2 separate regions of the Homo sapiens genome follow, and region 2 is linked to region 1. Evidence: fine-mapped expression QTL. A gene starts in region 1. The other region holds a variant in brackets. All regions are shown on one strand. Distances are from middle to middle.

Region 1 (5,226 bases):
TCCCAGCTACTCGGGAGGTTGAGGCAGGAGAATTGCTTGAACCCGGGAGGCGGAGGTTGCAGTGAGCCAAGATCGCGCCATTGCATTCCAGCCTGGCGACAGAGCAAGACTCCAACTCAAAACAAACAAATAACAACAACAACAACAAAAAGGCATTAACAACAACAACAAAAAGGCATTATTAGGAAATAGTTAAATAAAGATATCAGGGATTGGGCCATGCACACATCTGGGGGAACATGATTCCTGCAAAGGGAATAGCAAATGCAATGGCTCTTGTAGGGGCAGAGGGTTGGAGAAACTGCAACAGGGCCAGTGGGGCTGAAGCACAGAGAGAGAGGAAAAAAACAAGGTAAGAGAAGAGACAGTTAACAAGGGGCCCAAGTCATAAAGCCCATTTGAAGAACAGTGGCTTTCGCTATAAGTGACAAGGAAAACCACTGAAGTTTTTAGCAGAAAGCAGATGTCATCTGACGTACATTTTGACAGGATCACTCTACTTGCCACATAGAGCCTGGCATTTAGAAGGTGCTCAAGAAACGACCAGTTGAAATTGCATAAAAATTAACCAGGCCAGGGCCGGGCGCAAAGGCTCACACCTATAATCCTAGTACTTTGGGAGGCTGAGGTGGGCGGATCACGAGGTCAGGAGATCGAGACCATCCTGGCTAACACGGTGAAACCCGTCTCCACTAAAAATACAAAAAATTAGCCGGGCCTGGTGGCGGGGGCCTGTAGTCCCAGCTACTCGGGAGGCTGAGGCAAGAGAATGGCATGAACCCGGTAGGTGGAGCTTGCAGTGAGCTGAGATTGCGCCACTGCACTCCAGCCTGGGCAACAGAGCGAGACTCACCTCAAAAAAATAAAATAAAATAAAATAAAATAAAAATTAACCAGGCCGGGTGCGGTAGCTCACGCCTATAATCTCAGCACTTTGGGAGGCTGAGGTGGGTGGATTACCTGAGGTCGGGAGTTCGAGACCACCCTGGCCAACATGGAGAAACCCTGTCTCTACCAAAAATACAAAATTAACCGGGCGTGGTGGCACATGCCTGTAATCCCAGCTACTCAGGAGGCTGAGGCAGGAGAATCGCTTGAATCTGGGAGGCAGATGTTGGGGTGAGCTGAGATCGTGGCATTGCACTCCAACGTGGGCAACAAGAGTGAAACTCCGTCTCAAAAAAAAAAAAAATTAACCAGAGTCGGGTGTAATGGTTCACTCCTGCAATCCCAGCATTTCCGGAGGCTGAGGTGGGCGGATCGATTGAGCACAGGAGTTAGAAACCAGCCTGGGCAGTATGCCGAAACCCTGTCTCCACTAAAAATACAAAAACTAGCTGGGTGTGGTGGCAGGTGCCTGCAGTCCCAGCTACCTGGGATGTAAGGTGGGAGGATCACTTGAGCCCCGTAGGTGGAGGCTACAGTGAGCTGAGATCTTGCTGCTGTACTTCTGGAGACCCTGTTTCAAAAAATAAATTAACCAGAAACCAGCCCAGTGCAATAACTCACACCTGTAATTCCAACATTTTGGGAGGCTAGGCGGGAAGATCACTTTAGACCAGGGTTCGAGACAAGCCTGGGCAACAGAATGAGACCCTGTCTCCACAGAAAAATTTAAAAATTAGCCAGGTGTGATGGCATCTGTAGTCCCCATGACTTGGGAGGTTGAGGTGGGAGGATCGCTTGAGCCCAGGAAGCCGACGCTGCAGTTCAGCGGTGATCGTTCCACTACACTCCAGCCTGGGTGACAGAAGGAGACCGTCTCTAAAAAGATAAAAAAATTTAAAGAAAAACCAACAAAAAAATTAACCTGAAACCCCAGCATCTCTTGCAGTTCTGAGATGGGACAATTTGAGGGTAAAAGGTGGTGGTGAAGCCTCCAGATAGAATAGGGACAGAACTTCTCAGCTGAACGGGGGCCCATTCCTCAGTCCAAGAGAGAGCGAGACAGAGATGCACCCCTCCACACTCACTTTATAAACCAAGAAACTGGAGCACAGAAACGTAAATTGATTTGTCCAAGGTCAGCAAAGGATCAGCGCCAGAGCAAAAGCAAAGGGCTAATAGAGAAACATCCTCTCCCCGCTCCGCAGCAACGTCAGAGACTTTCTGAGGTGAGATGCATGCTCCTGCAAAGCGTCAGCAGTGACTCACATCGATTCCAGGGACAGCGGCGCCAGCCCGGGGCCCCCGCGGGCGTGGGCCTGCTGGGAGGTGGCTCTGCGGGAGCGACGCGCGAATACAGGCCGCAAATGATAGGCGGGCGGCGCAGGAGCCCCATCTGGAATCCCCGGCGGACTCGCACCGCCTCCGGTTGACAACAATGCTAATATGAGACGCCACTGCTAGCAGCTGCAGGCTGAGCTGCTCTGGCGAGTCAGACGCCCTTTAAGCCTCAGTTTCCCCATTTGTGAAAGGAGCCAGCGCCGCTCAACAACCCCACTCCCACCGCCACCCCTGGGGCGCTCGGCCGTCGAAGGCTAAGTGAAGAAGGCCGAGGGGGCAGGCAGAAGGCGCACACGGGCGCCACGCCCTCCTCGCCCCGCACCCCTGTTCCAGGCAGGTGACGGGGAAAGGAAAGGGACCCTGACTCTACCGTAAACAGGCGGCGCCGCCGCGTGGGGGGAATCGAGCGCGCGCCTCCGCCCTCTGGGGCGGGGACGGATTTAGGGTCCGGGTCAGGCCGGGGTCGCCACCTCCGGATCCAGCGGTCCAGATGTCCAGCCGGCTAGTCTGTTAGCTCTCTCGAGCTCCCGGCCTCACGCGCTTCCAGCACCACCTGCTCTCCGCACCGCGGCGGATGATGGCGGAGGAGGAGGATTTTGAAAGCCGGCAGTTTCTTTGCTTCGATTTGATTTGTTCGAGGCCCCGGCCGGCTTGCCCTCGCCCCGCTCGCGCGGCCTCTCGGGTAGAGTAGTCCGGTTCCCCATCTGGGAGCGCGATGGGGCGCGCACCGCGAACTACCCGTCCCATGGCGCACCGCGCGCAGAGCGTCCTCCACCGCCCTCCTCTTCGCCCTCCCCTGGTGGCTTCTGGCTCTTTCTCGCAGAGACCGCAGGGAGGTGTTCAGCCGGGAGCGCCCAGAGACTACAATTCCCAGAATGCGTTGCACCCAGGTCCCTCAGCTCTTCCGGAAAGGTTTTGTTCGCGTAACTTTGTTGATAACAGGTACTGCTGGCTGCTGGGTCTCTTGGGCAAGACACAGGTATCCATTTCCCGAAAGAAAAGACTCTTTTCCGTCCCATGAAACTGAAAGGGCATTCGAAGGCTTCCACATAAATATGCACAAATTACCTGATAATTAAAAAGGGGAAATAGTAACTATCGTAGAGAAGCTCCGCAGACACCACTTGAACGGCCACGTTAACATCAACAGCAGGACAAGCTGACATTCATCGCACGCTTTCTGTGTGATGCACTGAGAAAAACACGGCGTCACCGTCCGGTCTATAATGCATGACCTTAGTCTAATCATGAGAAACCCAAGCTGAGGGACATGGTACAGAATAACTGATCTGTACCCTTCCGGAAATGTCTGTATTATGTAAGACAAAGAAAAACTGAGGAACTGTTGCCGATTACAGGAAACGAAAAAGACAACTGAATGCAAGACATGGTCCTGGATCGGATCCTGGGTGGGGATTGCTATAAAGGACAATACTGAAACAGCAAAACTTGACTATATTAGATAATAGTATTGTATCAATGTTAAATTTATTAATTTTGATTATGGTACAGGGTTATGTAAGAGACTGCCCTTGTTCTTGGAAAAAAATGCTGAAATAATTAGGGACAAAAAGGACATGATGTCTGCAACCTTTATGGTTAAAAGAAATATACCTATACATATACATAGAGAAAGCAGAGACACAAATGTGGCAAAATGTTAATCAGTTAATCTGGTTGAAGAATATGGGAGTTCTTTGAACATTTTTGCAACTTTTCTGTAGGTGTGAATTTAAGCATAAAAACACAAACAGCGTTTTTTTTTTGTTTTTTTTTTTTGAGATGGAGTTTCACTCTTGTTGCCCATCTTGGCCTCCCAAAGTGTTGGGATTATAGGCGAGAGAGTGTGAGACCAGCCTGGGCAACATGGTCAAACCCTGTCTCGACAAAAAATACAAAAATTAGTTGGACGTGATGGTGCAAGCCTGTAGTCTCAGCTAAGGGCCTGAGGCAGGAGGATCTGGAGCCTGGGAGCTTGAGGCTGCAGTGAGCCGTGATTGCACCACTGCATTTCAGCCCTGGCGACAGAGCAAGACCTTGTCTCAAAAACTGAAAAAAGAAAAAAAAAAAAAGTTAAACAGATCATGCAGGCTGGGCGCAGTGGCTCACACCTGTAATCCCAGCACTTTGGGAGGCCGAGGCGGGCGGATCACCTGAGGTCAGGAGTTTGAGACCAGCCTGACCAAAATGGAGAAACCCCGTCTCTACTAAAAATATAAAATTAGCTGGGCATGGTGACGCATGCCTGGAATCCCAGCTACTCGGGAGGCTGAGGCAGAAGAATCGCTTGAACCCGGGAGGCGGAGGTTGCAGTGAGCCGAGACGCACCATTGCACTCCAGCCTGGGCAACAAGAGCGAAACTCCGTCTCTAAATAAATAAATAAATTAATTAATTAATTAACAGATCATGCCATATCCTTTTACACACAGCTCATTTAATCTTCACCACCACAAGGGAAGTGGGCATCATTACCACCCTTCCCAGCACAGAGATGAGAAAACTGAAGCTCTAGACAGAGTGTAACTCTCCCAGTTCTCAAAGTTCCTGAGATGTGGATCCTCTTTCCACCTTCCCTCTCCTTTTTACCTACAAGGCCCATGTCAAATGCTACTTCATGAGTCTCTCCCTCCTGCAGGTGCCCACAGCAAGATGCAAAGCCCCACAGCAGTTGGCCTGGGACTCTGGGGCTCTTTGACAGAGTTAACACTGTTCTTGGCAGTTTCCTCCTCAGCCTGGGAGGGTCTCCAGAGCAGACGCTGTATCCATCTGGGCAGTATCTTCTCTGGGCCTGGCCTGTCATAGGTGCTTCAGGTTTCCCCATTTGAACCAGATACCAGTCGGGTTACCGGATGTTTGCTTAAAATGAGTCATAGGCTTCCTGCTATTCCTGTGCTGCTTCCAGCTAGGACTGATCGAATCAGTCTGGATTTTCCTTGGGGTGATCCGCAGGCTCCCTTTTCCAATTTTACTTCTTGAGACTTTCCTTGGCCCTCACACA
Region 2 (5,226 bases), 22 kb before region 1:
AAGCCCTACTCAGGAAAGGGAGAGACCACATGGAGTGGATGAACTTTTAGCCAGGTCCAGGGGAAGGACTTCCTAGTCAGCTCACTTCACTGTCTAAGGCCCTCTGCTAGGTGGGAAAATCATGGCTCCCATTTTCCAGCTGAAGAAACTCAGGGTAAGAGGAACGGAAACTTTCTTATGGTCAATAAACAAGTGGTGGACTCTGGACCAAAGCCCAAATCTTCCAGCTTCTCTTCCACGTTCCACAATGTCCAAGGGAGCCAGCTGCCAAGTCCACGGTCCAGACGAACCTGTCTGACACCTGCCTGTGCCTAAAAGCTGGCCAGGCACAGCAGGAGCTTGCCTGCTGGTGGTAAAAACCTAACACCCAGCTTGCCCTGTCCCTGGTGTGGTGCCAGGAAGTAGCTTCTACCCTGGTTACACCATTAGGAAAAGCACTGAAAAACGGAGACTGACCGATGGGAATCAGAGCCCATGGTAAATGCGACATAAAAGAATCACGAGCGAGTGCACCGAGAGAAGTGATATTTGCAGAACACCTGATGTTTGCAGAGCACCTGCTAGGGCCTGGGCATCCTTGGCATATTTTCTTGTTTCAACCTCAACACCAGCCTGGGAGGCAGGCAGGATTGGCCGTACTTTACAGATGAGGAAGCTGAGGCTCTGAGAGATGAGTGAATTGGCCAAGGTCACCCGGTAAGTATTTAGCAAAGCCGCACATGGCGGGTGGGTTGGCCTAACTCCTGGCATGAGACTGCACACAGCCATCCTTGAGGAACAGAAGAGCCAGCACCTGCCTGACTCCACGGTGGTGATGGTGGATCACGCACACACGATCACGCACACACTCAGGGTAGAGACATCAAACTTCTGCCAAAGACCAGCCTCTGAGGAAGCTACTCAGCAGCAGCAGCCGACTGCTAGGTCACCCCCATTCTCCCAGATTCCCTGGAGGCCACGTGGTGATGGCCTTAGCTCCTGCAGGAGTCCAACTTGGGTATGGAGAGTTCTCAAGCACAGGGCCATGCCTCTTGCCCCACCAACTCCTCTGGGCCCTTCTATTCTCATGGTGCATGGCACAGAAACCACACTAAACACACTGCCCAGAAGAAAAAGATTCCAAAGGACCTGCAGGCCTTGGTTAGACACCCAGACCATGGCGTCTGAGCTCCCAAGAGGCATAGGTCAGCAAGGCCGAGACCCAGAGACCTAATCAAATCAGTGGTCAGGGAGGCACAGAGAACCATCAATCAAACTCCAGGGTAGGCCTGTCTGCCCAGGAGGCCCTCTGGTCCTGGGTCCAAAACTCATTCCCCAACTCACCCCATTACAAGTATAGGACAGGCCAGACAACTCCTGGCCAGTAGGAAAGCTCCCTGAGCCTCAGTTTCCAGGCACTGCTGGGCAGGAGAAGGGAAGTAATGGAAGGAAAACCGAAGCATTTTGCTAGAATAGAGTCTCTGGCTCTCCCAGCGTATGCCACTCACTCTAGGTTGGGCCACGCCTGCTTTCTGTGCTGACGCAAACGTTTTTATATGTTTCTGTTTGTTTGTTTGTTTGTTTGTTTTTTTGAGACGGAGTTTTGCTCTTGTTGCCCAGGCTGGAGTGCAGTGGCGCCATCTCGGCTCACTGCAACCTCCACCTCCCGGGTTCGAGCAATTCTCCTGCCTCAGCCTCCCGAATAGCTGGGACTACAGGCACCTGCCACCACACCCAGCTAATTTTTGTATTTTTAGTAGAGATGGGGTTTCACCATGTTGGCCAGGCTGGTCTCGAACGCCTGACCTCAGGTGATCTGCCCGACTCGGCCTCCCAAAGTGCTGGGATTACAGGCATGAGCCACTGCACCACCGTGCCCGGCCCATTTTTACATCTTAACACAGGGATAGCTTATTGCCCAAGTGGACTTGGGGGAGGGCTGGCTAAGGCAGGCACAGAGCCTGCCCCTGCTCACCCTCACGTCAGGCCGAGGGACACAGGCACCCTCTGCAGGGGAGGCCACTCCAGCTCCTCAGCCTGGGGCTCCATGGGCCTCACAGCACTAGCTATGTGATCCACTCCACCCCATCTCTCTAAGCCTATGCTGAGTCATGTGGAAAAACTGGGATGGCATCAGCCACCTTTCAGTGTGGGTGGGAAAAGTTAAGGTATTGCATATTCAAATAAGATATCCCCAACTGCTGTTACTTCTGTGTCCCCAGCCCTTTTCTCCCTTTGGTTAGAAAGTGTGTGTAGGGGTTGCAGCCTGGCACTCAGTGTCCTCCAACCCTGGGTCTAAAGGCACTGGGATGGAGTTGGAAGAGAATAATACGGCAGGCCGCCCTTGATGCAGGTTCTGGGAAGCAAAGAAGCTCCACTCTACACTGACCAGCCCAACGTGAAGCTCTACACTGACCTTGCCTGAGGACACCTCCCTGGGCAAGGCCCTGTCTAGGAATAAAGGTGAGCTGTGACGGTGCCCCCCCTGAGCATATGCTCCTCTTTTCAGACTCCCTCTGCCTATGTGCCAGGCTCTACCAGCTGCTCTGCGGGTACAGTGAGTATAGGGATGCCCCAAGCCCTGAGTTTTGCAGAGCCAGCAGGCTGGAGCAGGTATGCAGTGGCACTCCCTCTGCGTTGCCAAGCCAACCCAAGAACTGGGGATGGTTGCTTGGCAACCCCACCCTCATGGACGCCTCTACCCTCCGGCCACAGGCTGTTGCCTTTGAGGCCTTTCTCTTTTGAAAACAACGGCTGACCATCCCAGATGGTGGTGGCCAAGGGCCAGGGCACATATGTCAGACGGATGTGGATGGACCAGGGGACTCTGC[G/A]GGGAGGGGGCTGCCACACCCACCTTGCCGCCGCCAATGCCCATGCCACAGTTGTTGAGCTTGAGTTCCTGCAGGGTGAAGCAGGCTGAGCTCTTGAGCAGGGCCTCGAAGCCTTGCACACCGTCGGGCCCGAATGCGTTGTCGCTTAAGTCCAGCTCCACCAGCTGAGCCCCAGCTGTGATGAGTCCTTCCCCTAGTGAGATCTGGGCACAGAGGAAGCTCGTGTCAGTTTCATAGACACCCAGCTTCTGTGCTGGGTGCTGCTTCTGTGCCAGGCCCAGCTCTGCCTTCCAAGGACACCCCGGCTGGTGCAGAACCAACACAGACACAAACCATTTCAGTATTCTTAAGACTGGAAACCCTGCAAAGGGCTCCTAACAGCTGGAGAGTGGGGGATGCGTATGCCTGGAGTGGCCCGGGAAGGCTCCTTGTAAGAGGTGGCATTTGGACTTAGTCTGGATGAGAATCAGCTAGTCAACATGAAAAGACTCCAGGCAGCTGAAAAAACAGGAGCAGAGAGACATAAGCATGAAGCAGCAGGCTGTGAGCCTGGAGGAAAGCTGTGGGTAGGCTCCAGAAGAAGCCGTGGCATGGGCTTTGGGTGGAAGGGAAGTGAGGGGTCAGATCAGGCAAGAGCCTTGAATGCCAGGCCAAGGACTGTGAGCCTCAGCCTGAGAGCAGTGGGCTTTGAGGTGGCTGAGGGATATGGAATTAATATCCCCAGACCTGAGGTGAGCAGATGCACAGAAAGGGGGGCTGGAGTGCCCACCCAGGAGTGTGAGGCAGCGACACTGGCAACAGAGGGGACCTGCCAGCCGGTGTGACAAGTGTGGGAGAGGAGCTGCCTGTTCATGGAGCAGGGGACATGCAGAAGCTGTTGGTTCCCTGTTCGTGCAGGAGGAGGGAGGGAGGAACCACAAATGCCTCCAGGGTTTCTGGTGGTGACTGGCAGATGGAGGTGGCCATCTCTAAGCCACGGCCAGGATCAGCTTTGACAGGGTGATTTGAAGCTCTCCTGGAAACCTCCTGGGCTGGGGAGAGCTACATTCCCTCACCCCACCAGGAGAAATGGTCAGAGAGGAGGCTCTGCCAGAGACTGGGTCAGAAATGGGGCTGAGCAGGTGGTCCATGGGGGCAGGAATGTGGAAGGGAGACTTTCTGCCCTCACCCTGGCCACAGATATGGCAGATGAGGCAGTTTCTACCATCCTCCCACCACTCAGTAAGCAAAAGGCAATGTGTCCTCTCGTTGCCCTACCCACAGAAAGCCTAGCCCCTGGTGGCTGGGTGCGGTGGCTCACGCCTGTAATCCCAGCACTTTGGGAGGCCAAGGTGGGCGGATCACGAGGTCGGGAGATCGAGACCATCCTGGCTAACACAGTGAAACCCCATCTCTACTAAAAATACAAAAAATTAGCCGGGCATGGTGGCGGGCGCCTGTAGTCCCAGCTACTTGGGAGGCTGAGGCAGGAGAATGGCATGAACCCGGGAGGCGGAGCTTGCAGTGAGCCGAGATCGTGCCACTGCACTCCAGCCTGGGAAACAGAGTGAGACTCCGCCTCAAAAAAAAAAAAAAAGCCTAGCCCCTGGCGATCTGGCCTCAACTGACCTCTAGCTGCTCAAACACCCTGTGCCTACTCCACCACATGCCATCTTCTAACCCCAAATTCTCTTATCCCCCTCTTAAGATTTATTCTCACGATTGGGAACATAGAGATAAGAATACTTTCTCTTCCCCATTCCTACAGAGTCAAGTAAAAGAAAACAAAAACCAAAAGAATACCTTCTGAAAGCTCAGGGAAATGAAATGCTAAAATTTAGGCAAAACTTGCACAGTGAGAATTCCACAGTGAGTATGCAAAAGAGAGTTCTCTTCACCATCTTTTCTGACTTGAAATTCTTTTTTTTTGAGATGGAGTCTCGCTTTCTCTCACCCAAGGTTGCAATGCAATGGCACAATCTCAGCTCACTGCAACCTTCACCTCCCAGGTTCAAGTGATTCTTCCGCCTCAGCATCCTGAGTAGCTGGGATTACAAGGCCCCTGCCATCACGCCCAGCTAATTTTTGTACTTTTGTAGACACAGGGTTTCAGCATGTTGGCCAGGCTGGTCTCCAACTCCTGACCTCAGGTGATCCACGTGCACCGCCCCCCACCTTGGCCTCCCAAAATGCTGGGATTACAGGCGTGAGCCACTGCGCCTGGCCTAACTTGAAATTCTTTAACATGCAATCACTGAAATGAATTTCCTTTTTTTTTTGAGACGGAGTCTTGCTTTGTCACCCAGGTTGGAGTGCAGTGGCATGATCTTGGCTCACTGCAACCTCCACCTCCTGGGTTCACGCAATTCTCCTGCCTCAGCCTCCCAAGTAGCTGGGACTACAGGCAGGTGCCACCATGCCAGCTAATTTTTGTATT

Evidence for each region. PIP is the estimated chance that this variant, and not a neighbour inherited with it, causes the effect.
Region 2: its variant is the best candidate, but not a certain one, in a credible set for the expression of RANGAP1 in whole blood (INTERVAL, PIP 0.60).

The regions. Positions count from the first base shown.
Region 1 is chr22:41,283,390-41,288,615 of GRCh38, forward strand. It overlaps RANGAP1 (Ran GTPase activating protein 1), which reads right to left and starts at 2,798. Exons shown (of 16, transcript NM_002883.4): 1 at 2,597-2,798. RefSeq lists enhancers at 2,501-2,570, 3,001-3,220, 3,251-3,320, 3,641-3,690.
Region 2 is chr22:41,261,831-41,267,056 of GRCh38, forward strand. It overlaps RANGAP1 (Ran GTPase activating protein 1), which reads right to left. Exons shown (of 16, transcript NM_002883.4): 5 at 2,834-3,013. Among named protein-coding and RNA genes, the nearest start is that of MIR6889, 11 kb to the left of the region's middle. RefSeq lists an enhancer at 2,290-3,165. The variant G/A (reference allele first, on the strand shown) is at 2,811.